Regions from separate parts of the Homo sapiens genome. Here region 2 is linked to region 1. Evidence: fine-mapped expression QTL. A gene starts in region 1. The other region holds a variant in brackets. All regions are shown on one strand. Distances are from middle to middle.

What was found.
Region 2: its variant is fine-mapped to the expression of FGL2 in blood mononuclear cells (TOPMed, PIP above 0.99). The same link has a PIP of 0.9 or more in macrophages.

Annotation. Positions count from the first base shown.
Region 1 is chr7:77,192,063-77,208,151 of GRCh38, reverse strand. It overlaps FGL2 (fibrinogen like 2), which reads left to right and starts at 8,333. Exons shown (of 2, transcript NM_006682.3): 1 at 8,333-8,971; 2 at 11,167-14,783. The coding sequence starts at 8,359. The coding sequence ends at 11,873. All of the region lies in intron 2 of CCDC146 (coiled-coil domain containing 146), which reads right to left. RefSeq lists an enhancer at 5,194-5,243 and a silencer at 8,633-8,742.
Region 2 is chr7:77,225,363-77,241,451 of GRCh38, reverse strand. CCDC146 (coiled-coil domain containing 146) reads right to left here. Exons shown (of 19, transcript NM_020879.3): 3 at 4,423-4,505. All of the region lies in intron 1 of CCDC146-AS1 (CCDC146 antisense RNA 1), which reads left to right. Among named protein-coding and RNA genes, the nearest start is that of CCDC146-AS1, 15 kb to the left of the region's middle. The variant C/T (reference allele first, on the strand shown) is at 8,340.

The DNA.
Region 1 (16,089 bases):
GTGAAAGGGAATTGAGGGGTTCAGAAAAGGTGTCCTTACTGAACCCTGCATAAGGCCAAACATGTTGCCTGTGCCCAAGGCTGGGTCTGGCTTGAAATGCATTCATCTACAACTTAAAGCACCACAAAGTCAAGGATGTGTCCGTTTTTCACCCTTGTTATTCCCAGGGCTAGTATACAGCCTAGTCCAATAAATGCAAAGTAAGTGTTTGTTGAATCAATGAATACCTAAAAAGAGGTAGATCTGTACATTTTCTAGTAGAATGATTTAAAGTACAGTCTGAATTTATGTTTATATCTTGATGATCTGCTTTGCTATTATATTGCTTCTAATTAATAACATTTAGAATCATAAAATGTTACACCTGAAAAGGACCTTACAGATCTCTAATCTGACCATCTCATATTAGAGATAAGAAACTTAAGGCCTAGCTTGTTAAGGCTTAGTTCAGTGGCAAGAAAGTTACTGGAAGGCTCTTCACTAAGAACATATATTCAATGACTACCACCCTAAGGCTCTTTTCATTCTATTATATCTTTCTATTTTTTGAGATGATCATAGTAATAAATGATTTATTTTAAATCTATATTTATATATGACTGACACAATTTGTGTCTATTTTGCTGTTTTCTTGTGCAATAGCAATTGTTGCAGCTGAAATTTGTATCAATTGTCAAAATACTGCCTACAAATAAACACTATCAAAATAATTTTGTGTTAAATACACAAGCAGAAAAAGCTGTGTCAAATAATGGTGGGTAGTTTAAAATAAACTAAGGGCCAAGCAATTTTACATCTGTTGATAATAATCATGAAGTCGTTTTTTCCACCCTGAAAAGTTTTCACTGCAAATAACAGAAAATGTCTTTAATCATACAAAATATCAAACTAGAAGTAGAACAAGAAAAAATAAATAAGATAATGCTATACCTCAGAATGCTATACTTTCAATCATGTTTTAAAAGACTTCCTTAGAAGAACTTAGATGAGGAGATACCCATGTATTTCAATGTTAACTGTTAAAACTACAACATTTACTCCATTTAATAAATTTTTAGTTACCAGCACAGTGGAAATGGCCTTTCAATTAACATTTATTGCGAGTTCACATGACGACATCTATATCTCATAAGATAAAGTTAAGAATCTTTAAAAAAAAGAATTTCAAAGAATGCAATGGCCAGCATTTAAAAGACATGCATTTGGCATGAAATTATTTAGTTAGTGGGGAATTAGTAGTTTAATATTTTCACTTTACCATAATAGTTTAATTGTTTAAGCAACACTATTATTATGAATAAATTGAAATATTAAAACAAATTTCTAAGCTATACATTATTATTAAATTTATATTTAATGGATTACATATTTCACAATGTTCTATATGGCATGACATATAACATACAATATATAAATATGTAATAGGTTATATATTATATAAATTCATGTGTGTATATGTATGTGTGTGTGTGTGTGTGTATATATATATATATATATATATATGTATGTTTCTTTTTTGGAGACAGAGTTTCGCTTTGTCACCCAAGCTGGAGTGCAGTGGTGCAATCTCAGCTCACTGCAACCCCCACCTCTTGGGTTCAAGCGATTTTCCTGCCTCAGCCTCCCATGTAGCTGAGGCACACACCATTATATGCATTACAGACACACACCACCACACCTGGCTAATTTTTGTATTTTTAGTAGAGATGGGATTTCACCACATTGGCCGGGCTGGTTGAACTCCTGACCTCAAGTGATCTGCCTGCCTTGGCCTCCCAAAGTGTTGGAATTACAGGTGTGAGCTACTGTGCCTGCCTATATATTATTTTAAAATGCCAAAGAAAGACAGATAAACAAAACCCCCCAAAAACACAAGTGATAAGCAGGTAAAATCAAATTATACATATTAGAATAAATACATAGGCAGTTTCAAGAATTTAAAGCCCTGGATTTTGTAACAATATATGGGCAATCCTCATTATTCATAGATCTTGTCTTTGTGATTTGCCTACTCTCTAAAATTTATTTGTAACCCCAAAATTAATACTTGTGGGACCTGTGGATCATCTATGGACATGCGTAGCGTGGTAAATATGTTGATTTGCCAAATACATATATACCCAGCTGAAGTCAAAGAAGGCAACTTTCTGCCTTCTTTTAGATCTCATACTGTAAACTGGTATCCACTTTGCAGTCTATTTAATTAGTGCCATGTTTTTCACATTCTTGTGCTTTTTCTTGGTGATTTCGCTGTTTAAAATGGCCTCTGACTCATCTGGAGAATGTGACTGAAAGAAAAGACATTTTAAGAAATAATAAAATAAAATGGCCCCTGAGCATAGTGTTGAAGTGCTACCTAGAGGGTTTTTGTTGTTGTTGTGTTTGTCTGTTTTTGGGACAGGGTCTGACTGTATTGCCCAGGCTGGAGTGCAGTGGCATGATCTTAGCTCACGCAACCTCTGCCTCCTGGGCTCAAGTGATCTTCCTGCTTCAGCCTGCCGAGTAGCTGGGACCACAGGTGTGCACCATCATGCTTGGCTAATTTTTTGTATTTTTGGTAGAGATGGGGTTTCACCATGTTGCTCAGACAGGTCTCAAACTCCTGAGCTCAAGTGATTCACCCACCTCAGCCTTCCAAAATGTTGGGATTACAGGCCTGAGCCAGCATGCCCAAGTTCTTAAGCTCCAGATGGCTGTGATGTGTCTTACGGAGAAAACACATATATTAGATAAACTTCTTTCAGGTTTGAATTATAGTTCTGCTGGCCATGAGTTCTGCATTAATGAATAAATAATATATATTAAATAGGGTGTCTTTAAACAGAAACACACTTAAAATAAGGTTATATATTGATTGGTTAACAAAAATGATGTGACCAGAGGCTCTTAGAAACCTAATCTTAGGAGCAATGGTTCAGTATTTGCTGATTCAGTATTCGCAATGACTTTATAGGAAACAACTACCATGAATATGAGAAATGAAGGCAAGATATAGAAAGCCACAATTTGATTCTCCTAATTTCTTTACTTTGATTTTATTATTTGTTTTGTTTTGGGATTATAAGAAGAAGCTTAAGATCAATCTCAAATACAAGAAGTAAAAATTCCTGGGCTCAAGCGATCTTTCTCCTTAGCCTCCTGAGCAGCTGGGACTGTAGGCGCATGCCAGCATGCCCATCTAATTTTTAAATTTTTTGTAGAGACAGGGTCTCACTATGTTGCCCAAGCTGGTCTTGAATTTCTGGCCTCAAGTGGTCCTCCCACTTCAGTTTCCCAAAGTGCTAGGATTACAGGTGTGAGCTACCGCACCTGGCTGGCTATATGAAACTTCCTAAGTCTCTGGAAATTTAGGGAAATGACAGTAAATTAGATGTCATATCCATTAACCTTTTGGATCCTTCATGATCCCTGGCTTGGTGTGGAGTACATAAGAATTGATTTTGTTGATAGGTATTGACTGATGAACTTTCCGAGACTCTTGTGGAATATTCCAGTTCCATAAAGTTTCAATCTGAGAAGCCCTGGATACTCCCACTTAAGACCTGTGCCATTAGCATATTGGATAACTATGTTCTGTAGTTTCATTAATAGTGAATATCTGTATATTTCTGCCCTATACTTCAGTTGATCCAGAAATCTTAAGGATTCCCATAATAGATCTTTCATTGTAGGTCCATATTGGAAGACTTCTAGTCTGAATCTCTCATCTATGCCAGAATGAAGTACCTGCAAGTCATACCACAGAACCTACCAACTATTATTCTAGCTTTAACCAAAAGTCAGGCAATTCTTGTTCTGTGGGTTGTGGAAATCATTTTTTTTAAGTTCTTTTCATGAAATTTATAATGAACAAGGACTAAGACCTCTAAGGAATATTAAAATAAATATTTACTGTCGATATTTCAAATTAAGTAGTTTAAAAAGTGAATGTTTTAATTTTCTTATCAGAAAAGCACATATTCTTTAAAGAACAATTAAAGGTTCCTGAGTTTAATAAATCAGAAACTACAAATGTTAATAAGCTTAATATCAGTGAAAGGCTCTCAATACTATAAATACGACTATCATTAAATTTACTTTCTTCTTTTAGTACAAATAGAAACACAAAGGGTTTCCTTGAAAAAAAAAACTGTATTAGGGGAAACAAAAATTTACTTTAGGAATCTGATCCAGTTATAGAAAATGCAGATCTTCTCTTAAATATACTTTGTGTAAGCAAAAAGGAAGTCTGAACATGTGAATATAGACTAATGAAAGTAAAATTTCATATGCGGCTTATAGAAATAAATTTTGCTACTTTAAAATCCCACCATGTATTGGTGTTAAATAATTTGCTTAAATCTAAAAACAAGTCTGTAAGTGAGTGTAATGTGTCAGTGCTGGGTCAAGGACAGATTCAGGGTAGTAAGGAAGATTCTGACACCGCCATGAGGAATAAGCAGCCGATACTAGGAGTCAGGGTAGACTCAGCATGAGAGAATCCAGAAGGGCTTTCAGCAAGAGAGAAGAGGCAGAAGGTCAAGTCATGAGGTGGGAACTCCTAGTAGTGAAGGACAAGTCAGCTCTTCAGGTTTCGATTTTCTGATGGCCTAGTCCTGCTTGAAACCCTCCCTTTTCCTGGTATTCATGACGCTCCTGTACTCTCCTGGTTCTCATCCTATTTCTTTGACCATCTTTTTGATTCCCGTGATTTCAAATTAACATCCACATCTATTCTGTGTCAATATTCATACCTAGATGTGCCACCACTCTTTGCTTGATATTTGCATTTGGTGGCTTGTCAATGCTTAAAACCCAGTGTACTGAAAACAGAAATACTACTACACTCTCCCCAACCTACTGCTACCTCTGTCATTAGCATGCTATCATTTAACTGCAATCAGAGGCAAATTTCAGAGTTGTCCCTCTCTTTCCAGTTCTCACCACTTATCAGATCCCATGGCTTCTATCATGCCTTGGTAATAATGCCTCCATCTCCTTTCCTACCCCTCCTGCCTCCACACTGGTTCACCTCTTATCTAGTGCCTGCTACCACACTACTAGCTCTCACCTAAAATGCCATTTCCCACTGATTTGCAGCAGAAGATTCATTCCTAAAATAGTCCTGGGGGGGGGGGGGGCAAGTATTTTATTTTCCTTGCTCAAAAACCTTTAGTGGCTCTCCATTGATCTAAGCATTGCTTTAAGCACAGGCTCTCCACATAGTTCTCACATACCCTCCCCATGTTATCTTTCCTCCTACGTGGCAATGTGGCAAAGAGAAAAGATATGAACTTTGAATCAGATACAGGTTCAAATTCCAGCTGTCTCTTAAAAACTCTAAAACAGAAACTGAAAACTGTAAAATGACCAGACAAGTCATTTATTGCTTTGAGCCCTTTCTTTGCTCATCTGCAAGTGCAGGGAGGAACCGTAGAGGCGGTACAACACTCTCTGCCCTCCATGAGTTATACACTCATTAGGGGAGTTGAGCCTCTTTTCATGCAGTAGTCACTTAGCATCTGCCTTCCAGTCAGTGGCCAAATGACTTTCTAAACCGAGAACCTAGCAGGTCACCTGTCAGTGTCAATGAAACTGGTCAACAGAGGAGTTCTCTACCCTTATGTCAGGGAATTTTTTATGCATTCTGAAGGGACAGAAGCCAGTTCTCAAAGCACATCCAAGCTTTTTAGGGGAAACTGTGCCATTGGCCCTTGGTTAACTGGGGTGTGACCAGCCAAAAATTAGCAGCAGTGCTTGACACGCACATTTCTGATTCAAACAGATGAACCAAAAGCCCACTGCAAGAGTCCAAAAGCTGTACTTCTGTTAGGTTTAGAAACTTTAAAAAGTACTTAAGATTTCATTTCAAAGTCCAACGTGAAGAAAATACCAGGTCTTTAATGCCCCTTTCTAAGAAGGAAAAAGGGATTTTTGTCTGATTTGTTCACCAGTGTGGCCCAAGTGCCTAGAATAGCGGTTTTGCATGCAGAGGGTGCAGAGTCAATTTATGATGAATAAATATATAGTATATCAATATATGTATGAGGAATAAATGAATGAAAGTGCCTGTGGCACGCATCTTATATATGCTCTAGCATAGTGCTGAGTATACAGAAGATCCTTAATAAATACTTTACTAACTAAATGCAGGGATTTATACTCTAGTCAGTCAAGGACATTTCACAATATCCTTAAGGACTAGGAACTAAATATCATTCCTATATATTTCTACTTTACAAAATGGTTTTTTTTTTTATCTATGTTGTCATCATGTCTCCTTTTTAAAATTATCTATTGTTTCATTTATTTCTTACCTCCCAACAGGGAAGTGTCACAGCTTGAAAATAGGTGAGAAGAAATGAGGTTAGGAGTTAGGGGATTAAATAGATATTTTTAGCTAAAAAGTTTTTGTCTAAAATTGGATATATTGAATGGAATGAAGAGAAAAACAATTTTTGAAAGAGCTATATGAAGATGGAAGAAAAAAAGTCATAAGGTGTGTAGAACATGTTTGACAAATTTATTTGGGAAGAATGTTACATTTATACACTGCATTTTTTTTTTTCTTAAGTGCTCTAAGTTTTTTTTTTCTTTTTTTGTGAGGGGTGGGGCTGGGGGATGGAGTTTCACTCTTATTGCCCAGGCTGGAGTGCAGTGGTACGATCTAGGCTCACTGCAACCTCCACCTCCTGGGTTCAAGTGATTCTCCTGCCTCAGCCTCCCGAGTAGCTGGGATTACAGGCACACGCCACCATACCTGGCTAATTTTTTTTTTTTTTTTTGTATTTTTAGTAGAGATGGGGTTTCACCATGTTGGCCAGGTTGGTCTCAAACTCCTGATCTCAGGTGATCCACATGCCTCGGCCTCCCAATGTGTTGGGATTACAGGCGTGAGCCACCACGCCCAGCCAAGTGCTCCAAGTTTGCATGACTATCATTCCTGTATGAGGGAAGAAATAGCTAAATTCCTCCGCTACAGCTACAGGAACAAAGGCTCATTAAAGCTGATGATCTGTTTACATGATCAGAGGTAGATCTAGGGTTGGAAGCCAGGTCTCCTGAGTATGCGAGAATAAATACAGTCATGGAAGAGTAAAGAGTCTGCCAACATTTTGAGAATGTGAATAGGATTTGGCTAAAATTAAGGGGATATACAGAAAAGTCATAGGAAATCAGGTTAAAGACATAAATATGAGATAGGCTACAGAGTGTTTTAAGTAATACAATAAAACATTTAGATTTTTGCCCATGTCAGTCATTTTGAAATTATTTTTAAAGCAAAAAAACCCTTTTTAAACAAGAAATCTTATGAGATGTCAATATGCAAAACAAATTAAAAGGAGGTGGTTTCTCTAACTGAAGCTGTTCCTCTTTCCTGCCTTCAGCCTCTGAAGAGAAAGTTAGAAAACTATTATCATTAATGCTACATGTTTTGAACAAGCTGATATACCAAGTGGCCCAGAGAGCAGGTAGAAGAACCAGCGTGGAGACAGAAAGCAAGAGGCCCGCCTGCCAGGGCTACCTGCAGAAAGAAAGGGCAAAGATGCTGTAGGCAAGAGAAGTTCAGGACAGACACTGGCATAGCTCAAAGATTCACATTTGAGCAGCTGTGGAAGATGACAGTACAATTACCAAAATGTCGAAGGGCAAAGGAGGCAGCTACTGGTTTTGATGAAAGACAATTATGTCCTTTTAAATGGGTCTTAGACATTTAGACATTAATATACACTATGCTACGGACAAAGGAATAGAAAGTAGCACTTTTTTCTCCACTAGTTTTCTTCTCTTTTTCAAGTAGATGAAGCAAAAGTCAACTGCAATAGTCAGAAAGCTGTACTTTGTTACACTTAGAAACTTCTAAAAGTGCTTAAGATTTCACCTGAAAGTCCAACATGAAGAAAATACAGGCTCCCCAATGCCCCATTCTAAGAAGGAAAAAGGACCATTTTCATTTTAGTAACGTTTCTGTTCTATAGACAGTTTGGATAACTAGCTCTTACTTTTTATCTTTAAAAACTGTTTTTCCAGTGAAGTTACGTATAATTATTTACTTCAAGCGTAAGTATACCAAATTACTTTAGAAATGCAAGACTTTTCTTATACTTCATAAAATACATTATGAAAGTGAATCTTGTTGGCTGTGTACATTTGACTATAATAATTTCAATGCATATTATTTCTATTGAGAGTAAGTTACAGTTTTTGGCAAACTGCGTTTGATGAGGGCTATCTCCTCTTCCTGTGCGTTTCTAAAACTTGTGATGCAAACGCTCCCACCCTTTCCTGGGAACACAGAAAGCCTGACTCAGGCAGCTGCCGCTATTAAAGCAGCTCCAGCCCTGCGCACTCCCTGCTGGGGTGAGCAGCACTGTAAAGATGAAGCTGGCTAACTGGTACTGGCTGAGCTCAGCTGTTCTTGCCACTTACGGTTTTTTGGTTGTGGCAAACAATGAAACAGAGGAAATTAAAGATGAAAGAGCAAAGGATGTCTGCCCAGTGAGACTAGAAAGCAGAGGGAAATGCGAAGAGGCAGGGGAGTGCCCCTACCAGGTAAGCCTGCCCCCCTTGACTATTCAGCTCCCGAAGCAATTCAGCAGGATCGAGGAGGTGTTCAAAGAAGTCCAAAACCTCAAGGAAATCGTAAATAGTCTAAAGAAATCTTGCCAAGACTGCAAGCTGCAGGCTGATGACAACGGAGACCCAGGCAGAAACGGACTGTTGTTACCCAGTACAGGAGCCCCGGGAGAGGTTGGTGATAACAGAGTTAGAGAATTAGAGAGTGAGGTTAACAAGCTGTCCTCTGAGCTAAAGAATGCCAAAGAGGAGATCAATGTACTTCATGGTCGCCTGGAGAAGCTGAATCTTGTAAATATGAACAACATAGAAAATTATGTTGACAGCAAAGTGGCAAATCTAACATTTGTTGTCAATAGTTTGGATGGCAAATGTTCAAAGTGTCCCAGCCAAGAACAAATACAGTCACGTCCAGGTATGTATAATAATGTTTTCTTATCATATGTTCATAAATGTTATACAGCTAGAGAGTATCTATAAACATTAACCTGAGTCAGTAAGTTAAATAGATGACAGATTAAGTCTTTTATTTATCAAGGTGCACAGGAAAAAATAAATATCTTCTCAAATATGACCACATAAATATGACCTAATTACAAAAATCATAGTTAGTTCTGTATCCACTGGAAGTCACTTTCAATTTTAAGATCTTATTTGTTAATGCCAGACCTACTTGCAAGCAGAAGTAGAGAGAATTTCTTGATGTTTTAGTGCATTTAACTTGTCTCTTCAATGAGGTGTTTGAAAACAATAAAGATAAGGCGATGTTCACAATTGTGCCTTGTTTGTTGGAAATCAGTTTTTCTTGTGATTGACTGACTGCCGCTTCTCATGGCTAAAGAGGTCTTTGAAAGATTTTAGCAAGTAATCTAGTTCTTAATCCCAAATATCTGGAGAAAATGGGAGAGTTTACAGATGGAATAAAAGCAGTTTCATATGTGTGCACAAATTTTTGCTTTGAGACCTAGTGGCACAAAAAATATTTTAAGGGGAGAGTTTTAGCATGCCACTAAGGGAAGGTATTCATATTTCTTTCTCTTTTACCTGAAGTTAGAATTCAAGCAGATAGAAGTAGAACCCATCCTCACCATCCAAATTACTTGAATTAACTTTAATAAATACATGTGAAATTCCACAGACTTAATCGCCTACTCCACCCACGAACTAACAGTGGTATTGACTCTCCAAACCTTGGCTTTTCACCTGAGTCACTGGGACCACTGTTGCTGACTGTCTCATACTTTGGAAAGCCATCTCCGCATTTGGACCTCTACTTACCATGAACGTGAGGTTGAAAGGACAGGGCGGAGATCACTTTCATTTAGAGACAGTATCTCAGGCATGCTCCATCCCCAGGGCATCTGCCAGTGAAGGAGGGAAGGGTCATATTTTCAAGGACCTCTATTGGTAATACTCCTGGCAGCCTGCATCTGAATGTACCTGGCACACTGCGAATCCAAGGTTCACCGCTTAGGTGACATCAGTGGGTATACATTAGATTAGATGCTGCATGGCAACTTGTCATGATATGAAGACTATTGTCTATTTTTCTCCTAAACATTTTGGGTGAAATAACTGAATATTCTGAGCTCTAAATATACAGGAATAGATTTTTATGCCTTAGGGTATCTCATATTAAACTTACCTTATTTGTCACACATTTTAATAAAAACTATCTGGGAGTAAATATCTGTCTGATTCATACAGAACTTTGTTAACTGATTATTATGCTTATCCTCAATATAGTCACCTGTTGTTTCTTTCTAGAAACCCAACATGTGAAATAGTGGCTAAATACTTTCCTAGATAATAAATACAGAATAAGAATATTGGTGTGTCATTGAAAAAGATACTTCTTTTTCACTTGAGCTTCTTTATATAGTTGTCAAGTGAAATGAATATGAATTTATGATCAATCCTATGCATTAGGATTTTAACACATCATTTGGAATATATGCTATAAAACCTTCTGACAGTAGAGGCTATCAGCCCCTTTAGGTGAAAGAAAATAGAAGCCTGTGCTTCCTCTGTATGCAAGGAATACAGTTCTAGGAGAGTTAGAATCATCTGATTTTTAGGACCAAGGGATGCAATGATTACGAGAACAAAGCTTTGCTGCCAGCCAGATCTGAGTTAGTGTCCTGGCTCTGCCACTTAAAGCTCAGGTGAAGGTGGGCAAGCCACTGATCTTTATGCCTAAATATCCTCACATGCAGACTGGCAGTAACGCCTACATCATAAGGTCAATGTTCAGATTCAGTGTGAAAATGTTACCCAGTCTGGCAGCATGCCTAGAACGTATAGGTAGGCCTCACTACATAATACTAAATTATTAAAACTGTACTTTTATTATTTTCTTATTGTCGTTTGCTGTTGATGCTGTCATTATTACTACCAACCAAGAGTATATTAGAGGTCCTTTCTGCTTTATAACATTAGGTTCTTCTTGTGAGGCCTTAAGCATTTGCTAAACAGGTTCAAGTAAGTTTAGTAAAGTTTCATTACTGCCATTGATTCAATTATCAAACTGCTTTTGTACATATAAAGAATTCTTCAGATGCATGGTTTCTATTAACAAGATCCAATGCCTTCCTTTTATTTCCCCTTCAGTTCAACATCTAATATATAAAGATTGCTCTGACTACTACGCAATAGGCAAAAGAAGCAGTGAGACCTACAGAGTTACACCTGATCCCAAAAATAGTAGCTTTGAAGTTTACTGTGACATGGAGACCATGGGGGGAGGCTGGACAGTGCTGCAGGCACGTCTCGATGGGAGCACCAACTTCACCAGAACATGGCAAGACTACAAAGCAGGCTTTGGAAACCTCAGAAGGGAATTTTGGCTGGGGAACGATAAAATTCATCTTCTGACCAAGAGTAAGGAAATGATTCTGAGAATAGATCTTGAAGACTTTAATGGTGTCGAACTATATGCCTTGTATGATCAGTTTTATGTGGCTAATGAGTTTCTCAAATATCGTTTACACGTTGGTAACTATAATGGCACAGCTGGAGATGCATTACGTTTCAACAAACATTACAACCACGATCTGAAGTTTTTCACCACTCCAGATAAAGACAATGATCGATATCCTTCTGGGAACTGTGGGCTGTACTACAGTTCAGGCTGGTGGTTTGATGCATGTCTTTCTGCAAACTTAAATGGCAAATATTATCACCAAAAATACAGAGGTGTCCGTAATGGGATTTTCTGGGGTACCTGGCCTGGTGTAAGTGAGGCACACCCTGGTGGCTACAAGTCCTCCTTCAAAGAGGCTAAGATGATGATCAGACCCAAGCACTTTAAGCCATAAATCACTCTGTTCATTCCTCCAGGTATTCGTTATCTAATAGGGCAATTAATTCCTTCAGCACTTTAGAATATGCCTTGTTTCATATTTTTCATAGCTAAAAAATGATGTCTGACGGCTAGGTTCTTATGCTACACAGCATTTGAAATAAAGCTGAAAAACAATGCATTTTAAAGGAGTCCTTTGTTGTTATGCTGTTATCCAATGAACACTTGCAAGCAATTAGCAATATTGAGAATTATACATTAGATTTACAATTCTTTTAATTTCTATTGAAACTTTTTCTATTGCTTGTATTACTTGCTGTATTTAAAAAATAATTGTTGGCTGGGTGTGGTAGCTCACGCCTGTAATCCCAGCACTTTGGAATGTCAAGGCAGGCAGATCACTTGAGGTCAGGAGTTTGAGACCAGCCTGGCCAAACATGTGAAACGCTGTCTCTATTAAAAATACAAAAATTAGCCGGGCATGGTGGTACATGCCTGTAATCCTAGCTACTTGGGAGGCTGAGGCAGGAGAATCGCTTGAACCTGAGAGGAAGAGGTTGCAGTGAGCCAAGACTGAGCCACTGCACTCCAGCATGGGTGACAGAGAAAACTCTGTCTCAAACAAAAAAATAATAAAATTTATTCAGTAGGCTGGATTCTACACAAAGTAATCTGTATTTGGGCCATGATTTAAGCACATCTGAAGGTATATCACTCTTTTCAGGCTATAATTATTTGGGTAATCTTCATTCTGAGACAAACTTAATCTATATCATTTACTTTGCAACAGAACAACCCTACAGCATTTTGGTTCCCAGACTAAGGGAACTAATATCTATATAATTAAACTTGTTCATTTATCATTCATGAAATATAAAATACTTGTCATTTAAACCGTTTAAAAATGTGGTAGCATAATGTCACCCCAAAAAGCATTCAGAAAGCAATGTAACTGTGAAGACCAGGGTTTAAAGGTAATTCATTTATAGTTTATAACTCCTTAGATGTTTGATGTTGAAAACTGCTTTAACATGAAAATTATCTTCCTCTGCTCTGTGTGAACAATAGCTTTTAATTTAAGATTGCTCACTACTGTACTAGACTACTGGTAGGTTTTTTTGGGGGGGGTGGGTAGGGATATGTGGGTAATGAAGCATTTACTTACAGGCTATCATACTCTGAGGCCAATTTTATCTCCAAAGCAATAATATCATTAAGTGATTCACTTCATAGAAGGCTAAGTTTCTCTAGGACAGATAGAAAACATGAATTTTGAAATATATAGAACAGTAGTTAAAATACTATATATTTCAACCCTGGCTGGTAGATTGCTTATTTTACTATCAGAAACTAAAAGATAGATTTTTACCCAAACAGAAGTATCTGTAATTTTTATAATTCATCAATTCTGGAATGCTATATATAATATTTAAAAGACTTTTTAAATGTGTTTAATTTCATCATCGTAAAAAGGGATCATCTCAGAGAGAACAGCAGTATTCTGCGTATTTTTAAAAATGCTCTAGAGTAACATTTGAAGTAATTCACTGTAGTGTATGCCAGTCCTAGAAATAATTTTTTTAATTTCTGGTGTCTGTTTCTAATACACTAACCAAGTTTTCAAAATATATTTACAAAGATGCATCTTTACCCATTATTTTAAAATGATTAAGGAGGATAGTTGCTTCAGGTAACAAGCTAATTTTTCAAATATTAGGCCCTTACAGAACTATTTAGTCAAAAAGTAAGATATTCCTTTAAAATATATAACCCAAAGCTTTCAGTTAAACATGATATATCACAAATACTATTAAAATGTTAAAGAGAAATGCAAATAGCATTAAATGATGACCAAAATGTAAAATATTGTAGATTTCAAAAGCTGTGTCTCTATTAGGTGGGATACCAAATGTAAATGATGTAACTGACGTTGTTTTTTACTTTTTACTTTTTAAAAAAGACTAAAAACGTTTTGATATTATACAATGTATTTGTTTCAGATAAGGTCATTGTCATTTAGTATATATAATTAATATATGTACAAGTTTAAGTAAATTCCTGTGAGTAAAAATGGACTTATCACAAAACATAGTTCTAAAGAAAGGTATATGCTCATATACACGGTGTCCATTAATTTAATGGGAACTAGGTATAACTTCAGGAGAATTTGGCAAATAATTCATTAATCCATGTAAATATTCAAAAGCTTGTTCTATCCACATTATTTCAAGGGATCACTTTATTTTTCATTATACTTTCACAGCACTTTTCTAGTAAATTCTGTAACACAGAAATTCCATTTTGGAATCATTTCATGTTACCAATAATTCTAGACTTTTATAACATTTAACATGTTGATGGAAATAGATTACATCTGCTAGAACCTTTTGCCTTAACTATTCACCAATATATGCTAATATTCATAAATATGGATTGACTGTTTACAAACATTAGAATCTTGTCTTGGTTCCATTTTGATGGCTAATATTTGTTATCTTAATTAAGACTATTTCTGAGGTCATGATTACTTGAAAATATTGACTAAAACTGGGTCCTTAGAAATTCCAGGTGGAGCTGATTTACCTATGACTGAGGGGAAAAAAAAATCAAATTTTACTGATAATAGTAATGCTCCAAATGAATTAATGACACATCTGTTCAATAAATAAAGAGCTTAAATATACAAAACATAAGAAATCTGGGCAACAAAACTTGTGGTCTTTACTTTTGAATAGCTACCCAAGAAAAGGTTTTAAAGGTAAAAGTTATGAGTAATGTCATCACAATAAGCTCTTGTTTAAAATTCTTTTCTTTTATGTATAATTAGGTTTATGTTTCATGTCTTTTTAAAACCTTATAAAAGATTTAATTATCACATCTATTCTTCAATGTGGAAATATTAAATATTGTTGGTTGTAAAATAATATTTATGTACTTACTTGTGTCTGAAAAGTTGTAAAATGCTTACCTCAGCTATACAATATCTGTGACTCTGAAGACTTTAATGAGTACTATTTCATTAACAAGAAGTCAGAGGCAAATAGAGGAACACCATTATCTTACTTCCCTCTAGAATACTGTTGAAACATTTGAAATACAAAAGTTTCAGTTTCATTTTGTGGCATTCAACTTCCTCTCCTCTTTTTCCGTTATTAGTGTTGCTGCTCTGGTTAGCCCTCTTCATCTCCTTAGGACAACACAAACGCATCTGAATAGTCTGTACCTCTGGTTTCAGTCTATTCCAGTCCAACTTTCATCCCTACCAGGGGGATTGTTCAAAAGTACAATTCTGATCATGTTATTGTCCTGCTTAAAAAACTTTCAACAACGCCTTCTTTTCTTTTTTTTTATTATTTTATTTTATTTTTTTTAGAGACGGAGTCTCACTCTGTCGCCCAGGCTGGAGTGCAATGGCGAGATCTCGGCTCACTGCAACCTCTGCCTCCTGGGTTCACGCCATTCTCCTCTCTCAGCCTCCTGAGTAGCTGGGACTACAGACGCCTGCCACCTCGCCCAGCTAATTTTTGTATTTTTAGTAGAGACGGGGTTTCACCATGTTAGCCAGGATGGTCTCGATCTCCTGACCTCGTGATCCACCCGCCTAGGCCTCGCAAAGTGCTGGGATTACAGGCATTAGCCACCGTGCCCGGCCAACAATGCCTTATTTTCTACAAGATAAAATCTGGCAAATAAGTCCCTTCATGAAATGATTTTTACCACTACTTATACTTCTGCCATACTAAACGCCTTGTTGTACACAAACAAACTACGCTTTCTAATGTTTTCATTGCCTTTAGTATACTGTTTCCTTGGTCTAGATAGAATGCCATCCTCTTTCCTCACTGGGTTTTGTCTTATCACCCATGATTAACAGCAGGAACTCAGGAGCTGGCCTTCCTGGTTTGAATTTCAGCTCCACTATTTGCAAGCTGTATGATCCTGGGCAAGTCACTTAATGTTCTTTGGTTCCTTCAATTATAAAATAGGAATAGTAATAGAATCTGCCTGATAGAGTTATTGAGAGGATTAAATCACATATATAAAGCACCTAGAACATATATATTTAAAAATCATCATTCCCAGCTGGGTGTTGGTGGCACATGCCTGTAATCCCAGCACTTTGGGAGGCCGAGGTGGGCGGATCACGTGAGACCAGCCTGGCCAACATGGTGAAACCCCATCTCTACTAAAAATACAAAAATTAGCCAGGTGTGGTGGCTCACACCTGTAGT
Region 2 (16,089 bases), 33 kb before region 1:
CCAAAACACCTAACTCTGGCCTAAATATGAGAAAAATTCCAAACTGAGAAATGCTCTATAGAATACCTGACTGGCACTCTTAAAACTGTCAACGTGGCCGGGCGCGATGGCTCATGCCTGTAATCCCAGCACTTTGGGAGGCCGAGGCAGGCGGATCACAAGGTCAGGAGATCGAAACCGTTCTGGCTAACACAGTGAAACCCCGTCTCTACTAAAAATACAAAAAATTAGCTGGGCATGGTGGCGGGCGCCTGTAGTCCCAGCTACTCGGGAGGCTGAGGCAGGAGAATGGCGTGAACCCAGGAGGCGGAGCTTGCAGTGAGCCGAGATTGAGCCACTGCACTCCCGCCTGGGCGACAGAGTGAGACTCCATCTCAGCCGAGATTGAGCCACTGCACTCCCGCCTGGGCGACAGAGTGAGACTCCATCTCAAAAAAAAAAAACCCAAAAAAACAAACAAACAAACAAACAAAAAAAAACAAAAAATGTCAACGTGATTTAAAAAAAACAAGGAAAGACTGAGAAATTGTCACAGAGATCAAGGAGAGATGAGGGCTAAATATAGTGGGGTATACTGCATTGGGTCCTGGAACAAAAAAAAGAGCATTAGTGGAAAAACTGTTGAAAATCTGAAGTTTAATTAATAGTAATATACGAATGTTAACTTCCTAGTTTTGATGGACCATGGTTATGTAAGATGCTCCCATTAGAGGAAAATGGGTGAAGGATAGACGGGAACTTCGTATATTATTTTTGCAACTTTTCTATGAATCTAAAATTATTCCAAAATAAAATGTTTACTTAAAAATTGTTTATTTACTGAACATGTACAGACTTTTCTTGTCATGATTGCCTAAACAATACAGCATAACAACCATTTACATAGCATTTATATTGTATTAGGTATCACAAGTAATCTAGAAATGATTTAAAGTATACAGGAGGATGTGATTAAGTTACATGCAAATACTATACCATTTTATATCAGGGACTGGAGTATCCATGGATTTTGGTATCTGCAGGAGGTCCTGGAATCAATCCCCCAAGGATACCAAGAGATGACTGTACTATGCTAGGTGCAAGAGGTGAATAAGGCTTAGCTCCTAGCTTCAAGAATCTTACAATCTGGCAGATGCGGAGGAATACCAGATGACAAGTACTACCGCTGGTGTCCAGATCAAGACAGCAGGAGACAACAGAGAAAGGATCACTCAATGGGAATGTGACATTTGAACTTGACTTTGAAGAATGATTATGACTTACTAGAAGGGGATAAATGATACGGAAAGAGGAGGTTTTCCCTTGAACTCCCCAAACAACCCTAGCTCTCTTGAATTCTTGTAACATAATTGTAGGAAAATCTCTCCCCACTTAGTGAACTATGAAAAAACAGAAACTTTTCTAATGGCACTTTATTAGGAAACTAGGAAGAGAAATTCCCATACGCAATTATGAATATAAATAAATTTACAGATTTCTGATTCTAAATTGGACACTGGTTAGAGCTGGATGGACTTGAAGGTCACGGTAGAGGGAGATTCCTACAACCCCAGTTATATTCTATGACCTTGGCCCTATGTAGGGAAAAGGACTAAACATCTGTCAGAGGATGTAGAAAAAGGACATGGCGGAATCTCCAGTATCTTATAGAACTCCTCTATGCTGCAAGCTAGCATCAGCAAGCATCGGCTCCAACCTTACCAGTAGATATGATTCCTCTTTCCCAGAAACCCTTATATTAGCTACCTCTCCTATTTGAAGTAAGCCCTCACCACTTCCTGTTTTAGAGCCAGAGCTCTCTTTTGATGTATGCTCCCCACCAACTGTCCTCACCAAGATAAATCTTCAAGTTCCAGCTCATTTGCAGAGACGCCCAATGACTTGATCAAGCCAATCTCAACTGAAGTTACCTTGTGTCTGCCTCACCTTTGTGATATTCTCAATTCAGTACAGATACATCCATTTTCCCAGGTTTTATAATGTCATTTGCTCAATAGCATCTAGCAAAACATTTACTGGGACATAACACGTTCCAGGCATGATGTTAGGTACCAAATAGCAACAACAATAGCTACAGTGATACCTCAAATAATTTTCATTAATGAAAGCTGGAATTATTCTCCTATAATTCAATTTTCATGTATGCTAATAAACTTTGTAAATCTAAAGTTATCTGGTCTCCTTAATAGGTCAGGCTTCAGCTATTGAAATTGTAAGCTGTTGGACCAGGCTACAGTGCCTGTTTTTGCATAGAAAGGACAGGGTGGTAGGGTTCCAGCCAGAACACAAATCGCAACTTACCCACATGTATTTAAAACATGATACCAGTAGAAGAGACTTTAACAACTCTTATAACATGGTTTCTATGGAAGACTCATTCAGTTTCAGTTCAATATTTCCAGGCTATATCTGCCCAGCTGTAGTCCTAGCAGCACGAATGAAGAGTCTACTTCATGTTTTTCCCACCCATCAGGCATTGGGAGTAGGAGAGAATGGTGAGTATTTGCAATGGCATTAGAGGGAACTAAGTGGTCAAGATGTAAAATGTGGGTAGCAGAAGGGAAGTTAACTGTTTTGCAACACAACCTGGAAGAGGAAGAAATAGTGCCATAGCTGAGGTCCTGCATTGCTACTTGTCATTAGGGGCCAGGGAACTGAGTTGTGGGCCAGGGGAGGAGGAAGTTAAGTCAAAGCACCCTGCAAATCTCCACTGGGCTCTAGATAAGAGCTATCCAGGCTGGGCACGGTGGCTCACGCCTGTAATCCCAGCACTTTGGGAGGCCGAGGCGTGAGGATCACAAGGTCAGGAGATTGAGACCATCCTGGCTAACCCAGTGAAACCCCATCTCTACTAAAAATACAAAAAAATTAGCTGGGTGTGGTGGCGGGCTCCTGTAGTCCTAGCTACTCAAGAGTCTGAGGCAGGAGAATGGCGTGAACCTGGGAGGCGGAGCTTGCAGTGAGCCAAGACCAGGCCACTGCACTCCAGCCTGGGTGACAGAGGGAGACTCTGTCTAAAAAAAAAGAAGAGCTATCCAGAGGGCAGGAAACACTGATATTCCTTGTATCTGCAAAGAGGATTGGAGGGATGCCCAGAGAACTGCATGGCATTTCCTCTCAGTTAAGCAGTGTGAAGTATGTTGTAAAAGATTACTCCAGACTTTCCACTTAAAGTCTCAAAATTCCTGAGCCTTGAGAACTCTGAGAACACACTGGCAGGCGTGACCAGCTACGGGGGAATGGAACCTCCATTAGGTGTGGGGGTGAGGACTTGGCTTGGGCTTGAGGATGAGGAACCAAGGCTGGGGGCTTTGGAGGGGTGTGAGGAACCTGGGTGCACTTGAAGTTTGCATAGGAATGCAGCTCTGCTCTTTTCCAAGTTGTTCACTCTTCCCTCATGCTTTTACCCTCAAAGTAGCCAAATATCTCTGGGCAAGATAAGAAGGAGGGGAAGTGATTGGGAATTGCGGGGAGAGGATGGCTGGGGAGTGGCAGCATGGAGTTTCTATCTGTTGCTGTTGCTCCTTGGCTTTTGATGAAGATACAATGCAAGGCCCTGAGACAAGAGGTGGGGGAAGGAAAGAAAGAGGCTTGGGAGTGGTAAAGAATCACAGCACATTAGGGTTTTCCCTCTTTCTTCACTCCCCTGCCCTCTTAATTCCCAGTGGCTAATAGCCAGTGCTCAGGCAGGCTTGCTGGACTCTTCTATGATAGCCTGTTCTTCTGACCTGTTGGTGATTGGGACTTGCAAGGTGTAAGTAGCTTGTGATATGGGGAGGAGGTGAGAAGTACAGACAGGGTCTCAGCAGACTCAAGCTGGGGTTGTTGGAGAATCTACACCTCTGAGTGATGAACAGACACGGGAGAAGAGTCCTGCAGGTGTGTCCTATGCAGAGACTGTCAGTGTCCCACCAGAATCCTTTTGCCCACCTGCAGCTTTAGTGGACAGTTACCATATGTATCAGCAGCACCTGTGTCCCTCCGCCTGAGAGCTGTCTCTGGCCATCAAAGTTTGCTTGGTTTGTCAAAGCGCAAGCTGGAAGTGCCAAGAGCTAATCTCCCTGGAAGTAATTTGTAATAAATGAGTGGTGGAAACTGGTGGGCAAATATTCCAGTTTCCTCACTCTTCAGTGGGAGAGTGCTGAGGTGAGCCACTCAGAGGCTCCTCTGTGAGGCTGAGCCCCAGTAGCCCATCATATAAACTCGCAGATGTACACGGCCTGATCAAGGCTAGATTCCTTCCTTCCCAGTCGCACTTCCCCACTCTCTCACGATGCTTTCTCGTACCACTTCTCAAACTCCCTGAACGCAAATCCTTGCCTCAGGGTCTGCTTATGGGGGAATGCAAATGAAGACAGGTCTCATCACCAGTAAGAAATTTAAAGGTGATTAATCATGTCTCCATATTGGTAAATTGCATACCTCATCACGGCGTCATGCAGCAAGGTATACTTGGCTTTTAACGCTGCCATTCTGGTTCCAGGAAGTTTTCCCATAGCATGTAACTAGCAAAGAGAACATAAGGTCACTGTTAATCACCATTCTCTTTAGGCTTAAGCAGGGGATGGAATGGATATATGGTTATCTTATAAAATCCTCCATTAAACATTAGAGGATACACGAGGCAATGTAGTGTACTGGAAACATGCCAGGTGTTTGGAGAAAATAGTGCTAGTTCTATTCTGCCCCCAGTACATTCTGTGTCCTCAGGCAAGTCTTTTCAACTCCCTAGGCTGTTATTTCTTTGTCTGGAAATTGAGAGGATTGAGTTAAATTCTTCTAACTCTAAAAAAAATTTCAAGGTTTAACAAACAATCTGAATAGTGTAGATTATAGGTTGGCTATTTGTAAGTTGAGAAAATGAATGGTTATTGAACAGCTATTAGAGTATGTGTTGCCCATCAGTTATTTCATTCTTAAAAATGTTGTGAAATAAAGATTATCATCTCCATTTGAAACTAAAGTTTAGAAAAATGATTTGTTCAAGGTTATAGAGCTAGTTAAAGGCAGGGTGAGAATTTAAACCCAAGTGGTTCAGCTCCAAAAACCCACGATCACTCCCCTGTACCGTGATGCCTTTGCCTCTGCTGTCAAAGAAGCATGGAAAGTTTTCCAATGCATAAAGAGGTACTATTTATTCCCATTTTATTTCTAGTTAAAATGACTTTTGATCTGTTTTCTGAGTTAGGTGATAATTAGTTAACAGACATCATAAAACATCGTCAAACACTAAAGTTTTACCATCCTAAAATCATAATGCAATGAGCATTTGTATTAGGTTTGACTTCAACTGCTAGTGACAGTATCAAAATAGAACTAAAGAGAATATTTGTGTTTTTCAGCCCTGTTGTTCTTACATTTATTTATTTATTTATTTATTTATGACGGAGTCTCACTCTGTCGTCCAGGCTGGAATGCAGTGGTGCAATCTCGGCTCACTGCAACCTCTGCCTCCCGGGTTTAAGTGATTCTCGTACCTCAGCCTCCCAAGTAGCTGGGACCACAGGGGCACACCACCACGCCCAGCTAATTTTTTGTATTTTTAGTAGGGATGGGGGTTCACCATGTTAGCCAGGCTGGTCTTGAACTCCTGACCTCAGGTGATCCACCCACCTTGGCCTCGCAAAGTGCTGAAATTACAGGCGTGAAAGCCTGGCCCTTACCTCTAAAGTGCTTATTGAATTCATCCACTTTCCTCTTCCTTCCCTGATCCCACTGGCCCAAGTCTCATCATCTCTCAATTGGACCACTACTAAACCTCCTAACTGCCCTTCTGCCAGGGAGATCTTTTTAAAAATCAGACAAGGTTATGTTATGCTGGGTGATCAAAACACTTCAAGTGGAATAAAATTCAAGACCCTTGGTATTCAAGACCTTGAGGTCCTGCCTGACCCCAACACCCCCACAGCCTCCTTTCACAACACACTCTTTAAGCTCCCAGTGCTTCATTGCTTCTGCCACACTGGCTGCCTTTGATTTCCACAGATGTATGAGTCTCTCTTTTTCTCCAGGGCCTCTGATTAGTCATTCCTTACTCCCCCTACTTCACTCCAAGTCTTTCTTCATGTCTCAGCTTAAATATGAATTCATAAGAAGGCCTTTTCTGACTTCCAAATCTAAAGAAGATAACCACGTGTACTTGCTCCTACCTCTAAAGAACGCTGAGCTTCATAACATTACAATCTGCAAGAATAAATTTACTTACATTATTAAAAACATTTTTATACTTCCCCAGCTAGTATATAAGACCTATGAGGAAAGGGCCCAGATTACCTTGTCCTTCACTGTATCCTCAGCCAAAGTATTACTAGAATCCCAGGCACAGTATAATCCCAGGCACAGTATACCCAGGTGCTAGGTAAATTGCTTATATTTGTTAGCAAATGAATGAATGCAGCTATCAAAATGCAAAAGTCTGAGTCTATACAGTGGGGTTTCGTGGTCTTTCTACCCGCATCAGGGTAGAAAAATGTTAAATGCATTATGAAACCATTTCTTCTTTGTGAAAGTGTTGGGGATCTTTCATGAGGGCCATACTATCTGGTGCCAGGCCTGGCTTCCAATCCCTACAACCCTCATTATTTTTTTAATCTATGGGTGAAATATGGTGAACAAGATCTTTAAGACCTTTGAGGATACTCTACCTGTATCAAATATCTTAAAATCTATTCATATGCCACCTTAAATATAATTTATTTATAACTTTTTTTTTCCCCAGAGATGGATTGTCGCTCTGTTGCCCAGGCTGGAGTACAGTGGCGCTATCTTGGCTCACTGCAACCTCTACCTCCCGGGTTCTAGCAATTCTCCTGCCTCAGCCTCCCAATTAGGTGGGACTACAGGCGCATGCCACCACACCTGGCTAATTTTTTGTATTTTAGTAGAGATGGGGTTTCACCATGTTGCCCAGGCTGGTCTTGAACTCCTGAGCTCAGGCAACCCACCCGCCTTGGCCTCCCAAAGTGTTAGGATTACAGGCGTGAGCCACTGCGCCCGGTCTATTTGTAACTTTTTAACTGTTGAGTTGCTGTTGGTAAGTCGACTTAATGTTACATTTTACAGATATTTATTTTGGTTCTGCAGTATTTTTTAGCCAATATATAATTTATTTCATGTTTCAAACATTTTCATTGGTTTCCCAAAGTATACAGACCATAGTTACTATGGCTTTAAAATCTAATAAGTTAAAAAAAAAAAAAGCCTTTACAAATGGACACACTTAAAGGAGAAAAGTTGCTGGGAAAAGATTATGAAAAGGTAAATATGTGAGTGTGTGTTTGTATGTATATGGGTACAATGAAGACCAACTAGGGGCTAGCCCAGTAACTAGCTAACCAGCCATTTTCTGAAGGTAAACTACTGGGTAAGGTAATTGTGGACTCAAATATTCAAAAAAACAGATAGTATTTAGTTTTGTTCTTAAGCTAAAAAGACCATTACTTCCTACTTAATGCTCCCTGCATAAAAAAAACAGAAATGAATATAACATAGGCTCTGCCTTAAGGTAGGCCAAAGTTTGAAGAGATAGATACAAAAAAAAAAAATGATAGAATACTGAAACTACATTCTGCAGTTTTATTTTAAGTAAATGATTGTATTTGGCATTTTGCAATGTTTTAATATTGCAAGTTAAAGCAGGAGTTCCCAGCCCCTGGGCTTTAGGAACTGGGCTGCACAGCAGGAGATGAGCAGCGGGCAAGTGAGCATTACCACCTGAGCTCTGCCTCCTGACAGATCAGCAGTGGCATTAGATTCTCATAGGAGCATAAACCCCATTGTGAAATGCGCATGTGAGGGATCTAGGTTGTGCACTCCTTAGGAGAATGTAATGCCTGATGATCTACGGTGGAACAGTTTCATCCCAAAAGCATTCCTTCTGCCCCACGGAAAAATTGTCTTCCACGAAACTGGTCCCTGGTGTCAAAAAGGTTGGGGGGCTGCTGATTTAAAGCAAATAAGTAAAATTATAAATTACAGACCAATCCAGGGGGTGGGTGGGACTTCCAAAATGGTGGGATGAAGAGTTTGATGAATTCTCTCCTTCAAAGAAACATTGATTTGGCCGGGCACTGTGGCTCACGTCTGTAATCCCAGCACTTTAGGAGGCTGAGGCGGGCAGATCACCTGAGGTCGGGAGTTTGAGACCAGCCTGGCCAACATGATGAAACCCCATCTCTACTAAAAATACAAAAAAAATTAGCTGGGCATGGTGGCGCATGCCTGTAGTCCCAGCTACTTGGGAGGCTGAGGCAGGAGAATCGCTTGAACCCCAGAGGCAGAGGTTGCAGTGAGCTGAGATCACGCCACTGCACTCCAGCCTGGGTGACAGAGTGAGATTC[C/T]GTCTAAAAAAAAAAAAACAAACAAAAGAAACAAAAGAAGCATTGATTTAACTGGTCAAAATAATCTGAGACAACCATTTAAAGTCTCTGGAAATTGACCTAAGGTTATATAATAAATTGAGAAACACTTATTCAATAAAATCTACTGAAGCTCAGCAAGAAACTGTGGCATTTGAACCATGGGCTGCATCCATCCCTCTAGCTTCAGGTTTCAGAACTATTCTGGGCAGGCTTGCAGCCAGTGAGGTGCCCATGTCCCCCACTTTCCTATTGCTGAGGATCAAGATCTATCCCAGGTGAAGATCTAAGAAACGGTAGCACTCAGCACTCATCCTCCCCTTCTTCCCCATGGGCAGCTGTAGCTGTTCGGTAGTGCCAGTACTCACTCCCTAATGTCCTGCTCTACAGGGAGACCCTGGGCAGGGCAAACAAAACAGATCAGAGTTCCCCATATCCCCAGCTCCTGCTCAGTAACACAGAGGCTCTAACCAGGTTGGGGGCTGAGCAAGCTGTGAGGACTTGCAGCTCTGCAGCCCTGCCTTTGACTTTATTTGGAACAGAGTGTAGGATATTCATGTCCCAGAGCAATGTAAAAAATAACAGACATAGAAAAACAGATATCATAAGGGCTAACAGAGTAGGCTAATAGTTTTGTGATGCTAATAGATGCAGACCAGCAGAAGTTTAACAGAGAAATTGGGACGAGGGACAGTAAAAAAATTCACACTTGATACTGGTGGTCCAGGAGACTGTGGAAAAGCCCACGGCTGTGACCACCCAAGATCAACCAGACAGGGTACTTCCAAGTCAGTCCCTGAGTTAAAAGTGGCAGATATATAAACTCCTCGAACTCCAAAAGTTGTTCCCAAGCCACACACAGACCCAGTGGAAAAGGATGAAAACCTTACTGGCTCAGTGAGCTTAAGCGTGACCTCTGACCAATCAGTGACTGACCGAGGGCAACACCCAGGAATTCAAGTTTAAAAACAAAAAAACAAGGAACAACTATCTAAGCAGAGACATTAGAGGCTGCCTACTGCGGGGGAAAAATATACTTCACAGTATTAGTCCAGCCAAGTCACTAAACAAATAAATAGATGAACAACAATAACAAGAACAAAACAGCATCAATAAGCCTGGGAAGGATCAGAATCCAGAGTTGTTACAATATATGACCTAAAATGTCCAATTTACAATGAAAAATTATGAGACTTGCAAGGAAACAAGAAAATATGACCCCCATCCCATATAGTGAGATCCCCAGTTCCTTTCTGCAGAGGAAAAAAAAAAAAAACAACAACAACAGGCAGAAACTTTCTTAGGGAGGATGCAGACGTTAGATTTAACAAAGACTTCAAAGAAAATATTATAAATATGTTTGAAGAATGAAAGAAACCATGTTTTAAAAATTAAAGGAGAGTATGATGACAATGCATCAAATAGAGATTGTCAGTAAGAAGAAATTTTTAAGGAGCTACACTGAAATTCCTAAGTAGAAAATCATAATTGAAAAATTCACTGGAGGAGTTCAACAGTAGATTTGAGCAAGCAGAAGAATCAATCGGTAAACTTGTAGATCAGTAGAGAAGGCAGTAGTGCCCACTTATTCATGGGGGATGTGCTCCAAGACCCCAGGAGGATCCCTGAATGGATAGTACCAAACCCATTTATGCTAGGCACAAATTTATTTTCCCTTCTTCACAATTCACAGATAAGATTTGTTCTTACTGTAGATCTTAGCAATCTCAGCAAACTTTTTTTTCTTTCCTTATTAAATTGAGAACTTTCACTTTTTCACTTAAAGAAAGCACTTTATGGCTTCTCTTTGGCGTATCCAAATTGCCACTATCACTGATCTTGTGCTTTGGGGCCATTATTAAGTAAAATAAGGGTAACTTGAAGACAAGCACAGCAATCCTGCAACAGTGGACCTGGTAACTAAGACAGCCACTAAGTGATTAATGGGTGGGTAGCATACACAGTGTGTACATGCTGGACAAAGGGATGATTCACATTTCAGGTGGGATGGTGTGGGAACATGAGAGATTTTATCACACTACTCAGAATAGCATGCAATTTAAACTTATGGATTGTTTACTTCTGGAATTTTCCACTTAATATTTTTGGACCATAGTTGACCACGGATACCTGAAATCGCAGAACATAAAATTGCAGATGGTGGGGGGGACTACTGTATATAATTTGAATAACAGAGAGAAAAAGCATGAAGACACACAAACAGATTGTCACAGAAATGGAGGACATTAATCCCACTAAATTACAAGTAATGGGAGAACTAGAGAAAAAGAGAACAGAAAACAAACTTAAAGAAATAAAAAACTTTGCAAATGGGATGAAAACATATTCAGGAGCTCAAAGAATCCCAAGTAGAATCAACAAAAAGATATTCACATTCAGATACATCACAAACTGCTGAAAGCCAAAGATAAAGATAAATCTCCAAAGCAGCAAAAAGCAAAACAAAAAACCCCAGCTTATTATGTACAAGGGAATCACATAAGAGTAACTTCTCATCTAAAATAATGGAAGGGAGAAGGCAGTGGCTGACACATTTAAAGTGAAGAAAAAACAGACACACACACACACACACACACACATACCTGTCAACCAAGAATCCTATATCCATCAAAAATATCTTTCAAATAGGAAGAGGAAATAAAGACATTCCAATATAAACCAAAATAGAGAAAATCATTGCTGGCACACCTGCCTTATAAGAAATAATAAAGTAAGCTCTTCATGCTGGAAAGAAGGAACAATAACTCAAATCCACGTGAAAAAGCAAAGAGTGTACTCAATTAAATTGAAGATATATGCTCATATAAAAGCTTGGACACAAATATGGCAGCGTCATTCATAATAGTAAAAAAAAAGAGAAACAACCTACAAGTCCATCAATTGACAAATGGACAAACAAAAAATATATATCCATAGGATGGAATATTCAGCCATAAAAAGGAATGGAGTCTTGATACCTGCTGTAACATGGATGAACTTTGAAATCTATACACTAAGTGAAAGAGGCAAGACACCAAAGGCCACATATTATGTTATTCATTTATATGAAATATCCAGAGTGGGCAGATCTTTGGAGACAGAAAGTTGATTTAGTGGTTTCCTACACATAAGACAACTAGTGTGAGGGGAATGACTTTTAATGGGCACAAGGTTTCTTTGGTGTCACGGAAATATTCTACAATTATGCCATGATTATACAACTCTGTATATATACTAAAAGCCATTAAAAACACTTTAAAAGAGTGATTTTTATGGTAAACTCAAGAAAACTTTAATGTCAATTACATTAGAAATCAATTTTCTGTGTAAAAGAGATACAATTGTAAAATCAAATTAGTGAAAACACTACAAAGTTAAAATTGAATTGCAAATACAAGTATGAACTAACTCATGCTTAAAATTTTTTTCCCTAGCTTTGTCCATTAAATAGCCTAGACCGCACACCTACAACTATCTGATCTTTGACAAACCTGACAAAAACAAGCAATGGGGAAAAGACTCCCTATTCAGTAAATGGTGCTGGAGTAACCGGATAGCCATATGCAGAAGATTGAAACTGGACCCTTTCCTTACACCGTACATAAAAATTAACTCAAGATGGATTAAAGACTTAAATGTAAAACCTAAAATTATAATAACCCTGGAAGACAGCCTAGGCAATACCATTCAGGACATAGACACAGGCAAAGATTTACTGATGAGGACACCAAAAGCAACTGCAACAAAAACAAAAATTGGCAAACGGGATCTAATTAAACTAAAGAGTTTCTGCACAGCAAAAGAAACTATCAACAGATTAAATGACCTACAGGATGGGAAAAATTTTTGCAAACTATGCATCCGACAAAGGTCTAATATCCAGCATCTATAAGGAATGTAAATTTACAAGAAAAAGCCAAATAACCCTACTAAAAAGTGAGCAAAGGAAATGAACACTTTTCAAAAGAAGACATACATGTGGCCAATGCCAACAATTTTATGGAAAAAAGCTCAACATCACTGACCATTAGAGAAATGCAAATCAAAACCACAATGAGACACCATCTCACACCAGTCAGAATGGCTACTGTTAGTTGGGGGAGGGAGAGCATTAGGAAAAATAGCTAATGCATGCTGGGCTTAATACCTAGGTGATGGGCTGATTGACAGGTGCAGCAAACCACCATGGCACACATTTACCTATGTAATAAACCTGCACATCCTGCATATGTACCCCAGAACTAAAGATAACAATTTTTAAAAAGTCAAAAAATAACAGATGTTGCTGAGGTTGTGGAGAAAAAGGAATGCTTATACACTGTTGGTGGGAGTGTAAGTATTTCAGCCATTGTAGAAGACAGTGGTGATTCCTCAAAGATCTAAAGACAGAAATACCATTTGATCCAGCAATCCCATTAATGGGTATATACCCAAAGGAATATAAATTATTCTATTATAAAGACACATCCATGTGTATGTTCATTGCAGCACTATTCACAATAGCAAAGACATGGAATCAACCTAAATGTCCATCAGTGATAGACTGGATGAAGAAAATGGGGTACACATACACCATGGAACACTATGCAGCCATAAAAAAGAATGAGATCATGTCCTTTGCAGGGTCATGGATGGAGCTGGAGGCCATTATCCTTAGCAAACTAACACAGGGGCAGAGAACCAAATACCACATGTTCTCACTTATAAGTGGGAGCTAAATGATGAAAACACATGGACACATAGAGGGAAACAACACACACTGGGGCCTGTCAGAGGGTGGAAGGGAGGAGAAGGGAGAGGATCAGGAAAAACTACTAATAGGTACTAGGCTTAATACCTGGGTGATGAAATAATCTGTACAACAAACCTCCATGATACAAGTTTACCTACGTAACAAACCTGCACTTGTATCACTAAACTTAAAGGTTAAAAAATATATAATGGTCTAGAAATAATGCCACATTAACAACAATGAGCACTCCTAATACATTTTGGTCTTTAATCTTATTTCCCACTAAAAGGAAGCAGCAAGTGTTAGAAATGGTTGATTTCAGGTCTGGTACAGGGAAGACACAAAGTGAAGCTGAGACATCTTGTTAAGCCAGAAAGCAAGAACTGTCCGTAGAAGATGATCTTATTTTACATATGAGTATGTGAATATATAGAGATCCAGAAGGATAAGAACTAAGATGTTAAAATGATGTGCTCTGGGTAGTAAGAATGTGCTGCTTTTATGTTTTTATTTTTGCTTGCCTGTGTTTTCTAATTTTTCCAATATGTATTACTTTTAATAACAAAAGGCTATTAAAAATGTGCTTGCAGACTATCACTGTAAACAAGAGGGAATTAGAGCAGAATTTAGAGAGAATTAGAATTTAGAGAGTACTGTGATCAGGTCCTAGTGGCAGATATAGGCAGATTCTAGCTCTGACTTACTGAATGCTCAACTGTATTTCCCCTAAGTTGAGTCCCATCTTTAACAGCAATGGTGGCCAGGCGCCGTGGCTCACGCCTGTAATGCCAGCACTTTGGGAGGCTGAGGCAGGCGGATCACGAGGTCAGGAGATCGAGACCATGCTGGCTAACACGGTGAAACCCCGTCTCTATTAAAAATACAAAAAATTAGCCGGGCGTGGTGGCAGGCACCTGTAGTCCCAGCTACTCGGGAGGCTGAGGCAGGAGAATGGCATGAACCCAGGAAGTGGAGCTTGCAGTGAGCCGAGATTGCACCACTGCACTCCAGCCTAGGCGACAGAGCAAGACTCCGTCTCAGAAAACAAACAAAAAAACAGCAATGGTTTGAAGCCTAATTGTAGGTGGGCCAAGGATACATGTTGGCTAGTTTTATGGCCACAGAAAAGCAGGAAAACTACAGAGGTTTCCTTTCCTGTTTTCTGTCTCTATCATTCTGCTGGCCTTTGGTGCCTTACAAACCTGCAAAGAAAGCTGACAGGGTAAAACACCTGAATATGTTCTTGCAGTTTCTACATAAATTGGAAAAGGTAAAGTCATAGATGTTCAGAATGTTAGTTGATAAACTTTGTTATTTCAGTCTCCTCTAAAAAAACAAATCTCTCTTAAAAAAACTAAACTGTGGAGAATAGATTTTAGCTGCCTTAAACATAAAAAATCATAATCTAGACGTCAACATTCATCAAAAAGTGACTTTTCTGTGAAATTATAAACTGTCTCTTTAAGCAGGTCGATCCCTGGTTAGAAACTTCACACTAAGTTCTAGCAGATAAAAATGCTTCACTCATAAACAATATCATACATGGAAAATGGTTGCATTTTCACATTGCATGATACAAGTGGGTGCAGAACTCAAGTTTGTCATGTTTCAAAAATGCAGAATCTAAGAAATATAGCACAAAGTTCAATCTTAAATTGTCAAAGAGCATACACAATGAAAGGTTAGATATAATGTCATAAGTTCATAAATATGATTTCACAATAGATTCTGTGTTATTGAATTGCCCTGCTGGCAATTATGTGACTGGAAGGAAACATTTACTCTAGAGATAAAGTTTAAAAAGAGTTCATGATTCATGGATGACATGTAACAATATGGAAAAAATTTCAAAAATGGAAATTCTAGGACATTTCAAGGAAGTAATAGCTCAGTAAGAGCTTTCACCAAGTGAGTTTATCTGGAAGGGGGTCAGCATGAGGAAAGAATTAGGTGTTTGCGTGGGTGTGTGCAGGGAACCTGGATTTGTCCAAGGTGGTCACAGCTATTTGCCTACCCTGTTCTTGTGACTTCTTTGACATTACCTAGTGGGTTGGCTTCATTCTGGGGAATGGCTGGCATGCTTTGGAAGGTAATATAAATGTGAAAGCATAAGTGGTTACCACTCTCATCTCCCTTTCGCCTGCTCCCCTCTCACTGCTGGAAATAAACAATACGGCCATTTCAAGTAGTTTCCAAATGCATTGAGCTCTCAAAACTGCTTCCTTTGACTTTTCCCATAGGTTATCTCAAGCTTTAGCTTTCTCACACACCTAACTCATTCACAGAAAATATTAGGCCACATATTCCTTTCCTCCTCCACCTGTGCTTTCAAATATATGCTCTCCTACCTTTTCCTAGGCATTGAGTCATCAGTAATAGCTTCTCTCCTTTTAATCTCTACTCCTTCCTTTTTTTTTTTGAGATGAAGTTTCGCTCTTGTTGCCTAGGCTGGAGTGCAATGGCGCAATCTCAGCTCACTGCAACCTCCGCCTCCAGGGTTCAAGCGATTCTCCTGCCTCAGCCTCCTGAGTAGCTGGGATTACAGGTGCCCGCCACCATGCCAAGCTAATTTTTGTATATTTAGTAGAGACGGGGTTTCACCATGCTGACCAGGCTGGTCTTGAACTTCTGACATCAGGTGATCCACCCACCTCGGCCTCCCAAAGTGTTGGGATTACAGGTGTGAGCCACCACGCACGGCCCTACTTCTTCTTTTTTACTGGCTAGCATAGTCTAGTAGTCAAGTATATCACAAGTCAAGTGGATTTTGTTTTGAATTATAGCTCTGCTAGTTTTTGTTTTTTTTTTTAAGGCAAAGTCTTGCTCTGTTGCCCAGGCTGGGGTACAGTGGTGTAATCATAACTCACTGCAGCCTCGAACTCCTGTGGCTCAAGCGATACTCCTGCCTCAGCCTCCCAAGTAGTTAGGACTACAGGTGTGCATCACCATGCCCCGCTAGGTTTTCTTAAAATGTTTTGTAGAGATGGAATCTCACTACGT